2 linked regions of the Homo sapiens genome follow. Changing the gene in region 1 together with any one later gene gives a genetic interaction. Each region holds a gene or a part of one and is shown on either strand. Other genes may lie near its edges.

Region 1 (3,832 bases):
CTTTTCAAAGCCAAAAAACGGCTCCTTGCCTTGTAGTAGGTTCTTCTCCTCAGAATCCAATCTAGTCAGATTTCTGATCTAGATGATATCCTCATCTTACAAAGATAAGGTGACCTGCCCCAGCTTGTGAGAGGTTCTCCTATTTGGGATGTTCTTCTAGCACAAACAAGCACAAATCGCTGAGGTCAATAGACTGTGATACCATTCCTTGACGTCTAACAGAAATAACTTTGGCCCTGTTACTCCTAGTTGTATCTTTAGGGCATTAAGTACCAGGTAACAGTGGAAGGAAAGTGGTACTCCAATCCCTCTCCAACTATCCCAATGAAGGAGATCCAAGCAATTAGCACCTTCAGTTGGTGCTGCTCCTAAGTTGTAAGCCTCTAACTACTATCAGCTGGACAAAAGCCACATCCTATATGCCCTGTTAGCACACCAATGTATTAATACTAACCAGCCACCCTAGAGCTCAATTAAGCATCTGGCCTTAATGCAGTAAACCACACTCAAAGGAGACATGAAATATTGGCTGTTGTACCAAAGAAGACACCCTCTGCATAGATATGTTGATAGAGAATGTAACCCACAGAGTCCATGCAAAGAGGAAGCCAGCACTAAGGGGACTTTCTCTGAAGGCCATTCATCTTTGGAAGCAACATTCCAAGTGGATATAAACCACTCTACTTGATGACTAAGGTCTCAATGTGGTCCATGTCCCCCCATGTCCCAAACTAACCAAGCATCTGCTAACTGGTCTCTTTAAGATCCTCCATTGGTAGTTTGTAGCTCATTATGAAGGAAGGAGGTGGTGCTGGACCTGGGCTAACTGGCCCCTGCTTCTTTGCACAGTTTATACAGATGTAATCTTCATTTTCAGCCATTTCTGGAGATACACCCACACAAACTTGATGAAACCACTCATCACAGCCACCATCACATTGTACCCAGTCTACCTGTAGGAAACAAGATTGGGGAATGTTTAGGTTACATAAACATTAAGCCTAGAATAAAAGCAAACCAAAGAGCTTTCTTGGCTTAAACAATAGCAAACAACTGGGATGTCTAGATAGGCAATGACTTCTTATGGGGTTATTTTTTAAAGAAAGAAGCTGAGAAGTTAATACCCCAAAATTATATTTCACCATAGTGTGTCCACAAAATTAGGCCTCTTAGGTACTCCATTACCTCATGAATACCTGGGGCTCCTTGTGAGGCAGAAACATGTTTGAGAAAAATTTGACAAAAAGGGAACTTCTAATAGAGCAGCCAAGTAGTTTTAGCTAATATTAACAATTTCTAGGCTCTAAGACAATGCAATTATCAATCAAGAAAGGAAGAGTACAACAATGTGAAGGCAATCCTGTGTATTAGCTTTATTTCAAAGAGATAAGCCAAAGTACTAAGAGCATTAAATACCTTTTTAGAAAAGCAGTCACATAGGCCACTTTTAAAACTAATATTTTTTATTCTTCTCTTCTTCCGTTACAAATACAACTCCCTATAAAAAGTTAGCAAATATCAGATGTCAAATCTTACAAATTAACCAATTATAACAGTCAAAGACACAGGTCAATAGATCACTCTGGGGTTTAAAATTAAAATCTGAAAAACTGATAGGTCAGTGGCAGGTGTCAAACTTTGACCCTTCTGACAATACTGTGATTACAGGAGGCTAGGAAGGGATTGTAGTTTGGTGACTTTAAGCCTTGGACTTAAGAGTTAACAATAAAGTGACTTTTGGCTTTTATATTTGAAGGCTGATTGTGGTAGTTTTTACAGCTAATGTCATGGCAGACAAGAACATTTAAGATGAAAAGAGCTACTCTTCCTCACCTCAATACCAAGGTTGGTCATTTCATTGGTAACGTTAAGAAGCCACTTAAAACCATGAGCTTTACCAGATATCAAAGTAAGGAATAGAAAGGGATCCAAGAAGTACCTCTATACAACTTAAGAGAAAGAACAGATGAAGGAGGTTTTGGCTAGGTAAATGAGTTTCATTCATAGCAACTGAGTAGTTTTCAAAATTAGTTTCCATGTCCTATAAAAAACTGTCAAAACCACAGTAGTCACGTCAGTAGTTTTAGGCTTGTAATAAGGGGTGGGAAAAATAATTTGTCAAAATGATATTCTACTTGTTTTGTTCCTATGCTAAAGTTCTAGATCTTAAGAGACAATATTGTGTTAACATCAAGATTACTCAACTCAGAAGCTCTGAGTTCCAGTGTGTATCATTTCAGGCAAGTCATTTAACCTGAGTGACTCAATTTCCTCATCTGAAAATGGAGATGACATTAATTACAAGATTACCGAGAGGATCCAATGAAATAATGTATGGCAAAACACCTAATTCACTGCCCAGGATACTGGAGGCACTTTCCAGTCATGGTCTCATGGCTCTACTCATTACCCTACACTACACAAAACGTTCTGCACCTTGATACAACTGTCGGCAGCACTGCTTTTCAAAGTGTGTAGACCACTGGCATCAGAATCATCTATTGTGTTTGTTTAAAATGTAGCTGGGACCCATCACCCTATGAACTCAGAATATCTGGGGAGTACAAGCCAGAAGCTTACATTTTTAATCAGCTCCCAAGTGATTCTCATATATTCTAAATCCGATCATTGCTGGCCCTCTGTGATATCACTTCCTGTAAATTCAGAGCAACTTAACAATACCTTCCTAAACTGATTTTTGTTCTGTAATTGATTGTTTAGCTTCTGAAGTCTGTGCAATAAAAAAACTCACCAAAATGTTCCTATTGTAGCAAACTAATCAGAGACCAAAAAAAAAAAAAAGGGGGAAATAATGGCATCTGTGCAAAATGTAAAAATTAAAGTACTGCAAGCAGTAAAAACACAAAATGCTAGCTGTAGAGTACGTGCACTCAGAGTGAGTGTTTTGGCTGTTTGGGACTGGTAAAGGGAACTGGATAGATAAACTGTGGTTCTCTGTGCTGCCCAGGTTTGAGATACCATGCTTTTTATAATGGTACCTGTGAACCAACAGTTACCTTCACCCTTACACCTCCAACCCTCTTTCTTAATCCAGTCTAGTCCCCATTCATGCTAATCCATTGGATAAGAATGTTATTAATGTATCAGTATTTGCTACAAAGAAAAGTGTCCCATGTCTTTTTAAATCTAGTGTTTGCACTATACTCACTGGCTTACAATTTCCCAAAATTCTCTTACAAATAAGACAATACTTTCCCTTTTGTGATTTTGACTAAAGGTCCCTTCCTAAGCCCAGATCTTCTACCATTTCAAAAGAGTATATAACCTTCCTTGAGATACTGGTACACAAATTCTAACCTAGACTACAGGTTATATAACAATTTAGCCTGATAATAGAACAAGCAAAAAATAGTCCTTCTCTTTACCAATATCTTTTTTATCATGTTCATCTACTAACAATCAACTCTGAGTTCTACTTTTGTGTGAAAGGCCCACAGCAACATAAAGCAAACTAAAGTTTGGGATGTCAACTGAATCCACAGATGATTTTGACACAGGGGCAACAGACTATGTAGTATCCTGAAAACTCAAGAACACAGAATTTGGATAACTGTATAAATTGTCATTTCCCCCCCTTTCATTATTTCTAGGAGATGTATTTAGTGAATCACAAAAATAATTACTAAACTTCACAGCTATGAACTGTTCAAATATTAAATGATAGGAGATTTTACATTACAGTACAAATAGGTTACTATGTTTAGATCTGGGGGAAATGTCTGTTTCAAAAAGAAATATATTAAAAAGAGGAAATATTAGTTTAATATTCATGTTTTGCTGTATGGTTTCATATTCACACTTAATAAAAAAT
Region 2 (3,378 bases), on another chromosome or scaffold:
AAACACAGCCATGTTTTTCTTACCACCTACTCTTAACCAGAGATCACTGTCCACAATTTCATTCAAGTAGAATTCCATGATTATACTAAAGCAGTACAGTAAATACCACTATCTCTATTGAATACGTTTTTCTCTTGTATAAAACAGGTGGAGGTTTTTGATCTGCTTTTTGTCACTAATGAGAGTAATTCACGAAAGACCTACATAGTACATTGCCAAGATTGTGCACGAAAAACAAGCGGAAACTTGGAAAACTTTGTGGTGCTAGAACAGTACAAAATGGAGGACCTGATGCAAGTCTATGACCAATTTACATTAGTAAGTCAAATCAACATGTGAGTACATAGTTAGCTGGGTTATGAAGCAGCAGTGTTTGCTCTGCCACCTGATAAGTAGGAGGTAATGAAATATTTTAAATTTTCCTTTGGCTCATTATATATTGCATGAGGGTATATTCATATCATTCCCCCCTCCATTTCCAAGTATTTATTCCTATAAAATTGGCATATATCATTTTCAGTTTTCCTGGGTGAGACCAGCCTAAATAATTTTACAACAATTACATTTAAAAATCTTTGCGTGCTTTAGATAGAACACTATCATATCCTTTATGTCATTTTATCTCAGTTGATAAAATGTTTGTGTACGTAGGTTATTAGAGCCCACAAAATGAATCAGTAAGTGTGCTTTTAAATATACTTCTGCTTTTAGAGCTAATTGTATTTGTTTAAAATTTTGTCCTTGCCAGAAGTATTAACCTCATGGGAGTATTTAATGGAGCTTAACTTCCTGGTATATTATGTAACCTTATGAAATTCAAGTATACTTATAAATTGCACAGTTTTTAATTTCAGACAGCAGATGCTTGGGGGAAGCATTTTACTTTCGCAGATCAATAGCTTTATGAATAGAAACACAGAGATAATTTATGAATTGTTGATTTTCTCCAGTACTTGTCTCCCACACATATGTGATCAGAAACTAACTTTTTGAAATTTACTTTCTGATATTTTCACTTGAATGGTCTTCAAGATTGCTTGAAGAAGAAAATTATCTGAAATATGTTGAAGAAAATATATTACCTAGCTGAGATAGATTCTGAAGGCAGTCACTAGTGAAATTGTAATTTGTTAAATTATTTTGCAAGAAGCCCCCTTTTTTTAAGCAATCTTAAAAAATGGTAAACGTAATAACATTCCAAGAGTTTTTGACTAATTGGTGAAGAAGTATAGAAAATTGCAAGTACACTGAGTAGGATAATGGTCTTAGATTCTTAGGAAGATTGGCTGAATGGGAGATAGTAAGGTAGGCTGTACTTTTATGTTGCATAGCAGGCTGTTGAACTTTTTGAGAGTTATTTCCCCTAACTTCACAAGCAGACTATATGTTTGTAGCCATGAGCTATTAACAATTTGTATATCAAAATAACCTACCTTACTTTTATTTTCAGGCTCCTCCATTACCATCCGCCTCATCTTGATATTGTTCCATGGACATTAAATGAGACCTTTTCTGCTATTCAGGAAATAACCCAGTTCTGCACCACTGGTTTTTGTAGCTATCTCGTAAGGCTGCTGGCTGAAAACTGTGTCTATGCAACCTTCCAAGTGCGGAGTGTCAACCAACTGGACGGGAGAGAGTACTGCTCCTACTCCAGGACTCTCACAAAGCTGATGAGCTGTACTTCAGAAAAAAATAATAATTTCCATGTTTTGTATATATCTGACAAAACTGGCAACATCTTACAGACTACTGACTTGAAGACAACCTCTTTTATATTTCTCTATTTCTGGGCTGATGAATTTGTTTTCATCTGTCTTTTCCCCCTTCAGAATTTTCCTTGGAAAAAAAATACTAGCCTAGCTGGTCATTTCTTTGTAAGGTAGTTAGCAATTTTAAGTCTTTCTTTGGTCAACTTTTTTTTAATGTGAAAAGTTAGGTAAGACACTTTTTTACTGCTTTTATGTTTTTCTGTCTTGTTTTGAGACCATGATGGTTACACTTTTGGTTCCTAAATAAAATTTAAAAAATTAACAGCCAAGTCACAAAGGTAATGGATTGCACATAGACTAAGGAATAAACTTCAGATTTGTGATTTTTGTTTCTAATCTTGATGTAAATTTACACTATTTATAAATACATATTTATTGCTTGAAAATATTTGTGAATGGAATGCTGTTATTTTTTCCAGATTTACCTGCCATTGAAATTTTAAGGAGTTCTGTAATTTCAAACACTACTCCTATTACATTTTCTATGTGTAAATAAAACTGCTTAGCATTGTACAGAAACTTTTATTAAAATTGTTTAATGTTTAAAGAGTTTTCTATTGTTTGAGTTTTAAAAAAGACTTTATGTACAGTGCCCAGTTTTTGTTCATTTTTGAAATCTGATTATATATATTTTATATATACTTATGTATGTATATATAATATATATAGAAATCTGGATATATATGTATAAATCTTTAGAACTTAAATTTTTCTCGTTTTAAGTTTCACATCTATGGTAGATTTTTGAGGTGTCTACTGTAAAGTATTGCTTACAAAAAGTATGATTATTTTTAAAGAAATATATATGGTATGTATCCTCAAGACCTAAAATGTCAGACTGGTTTATTGTTAAGTTGCAATTACTGCAATGACAGACCAATAAACAATTGCTGCCAAAATGTAGTATAATAGTAGAAAACAAATAGTGATTGAACTTAAGATTTTAAAGGGACTGTTATATGGGCTTGACAAATCCTGTACAATACTTAGTACCATTTTATATGGAAAAGGGGATTCAGGATGAAGGGCTCTATTTTAGAATGCAAATAAATTAAGAGACTTATTTTTTAATGTTAGGCAGTTTTGAAATCTCATGCTTTTTTGCTTGCATGACATGATTTGGGGGAGGAGTGCTGCAAATTCCCTATCACTAGTAAAATATAGCAATCTATATTAGCATTCACAAGTCACTGCTAATTAATGATAGTATTTCATTTTGTAATAACAGCACCTTGCATTTGTACCTCCATTTTCTGACGCATTTGACACATACTCTCATTTAATCATATTGTTCTTTGTATGAATTTTCCAGGAAGCATTAGTGAAGAAGCATAGAGAATGCTGTAAATCAAGATTATATATATATATGGCTAAAGAGAGCTTATTCTATCTAGTGAAATGCCCTGCTGATTGCATTAATCACATACTCTTTCAGATTTAGAGTATGTTATCCTCTTAGAAACAGTTTGAAGGTTGAAAGCATGGAGATACTTTTTTCGATTAGTTAATAATTTGGTAAATATTGGCTATCTACTAGAAGTAATCATCTCTTATTTATAATTTAAGGGAAAAATGCCAAATCTATTTTAATTATGGAGCAAGAATG

The links.
Region 2: changes in KDM5A (region 1) and KDM6A together harm fitness more than expected from each alone (negative genetic interaction), as found in Homo sapiens cells (one large-scale study listed by BioGRID).

Annotation. Positions count from the first base shown.
Region 1 is NC_000012.12:284,710-288,541, forward strand, and holds part of KDM5A (lysine-specific demethylase 5A), read right to left. Parts: intron 954-3,832; coding exon 747-953; 3' UTR 1-746. UniProt on the Homo sapiens protein: Histone demethylase that specifically demethylates 'Lys-4' of histone H3, thereby playing a central role in histone code. Does not demethylate histone H3 'Lys-9', H3 'Lys-27', H3 'Lys-36', H3 'Lys-79' or H4 'Lys-20'.
Region 2 is NC_000023.11:45,109,932-45,113,309, forward strand, and holds the end of KDM6A (lysine-specific demethylase 6A), read left to right. Parts: intron 1-147; coding exon 148-318; intron 319-1,450; coding exon 1,451-1,480; 3' UTR 1,481-2,848; downstream 2,849-3,378. UniProt on the Homo sapiens protein: Histone demethylase that specifically demethylates 'Lys-27' of histone H3, thereby playing a central role in histone code. Demethylates trimethylated and dimethylated but not monomethylated H3 'Lys-27'.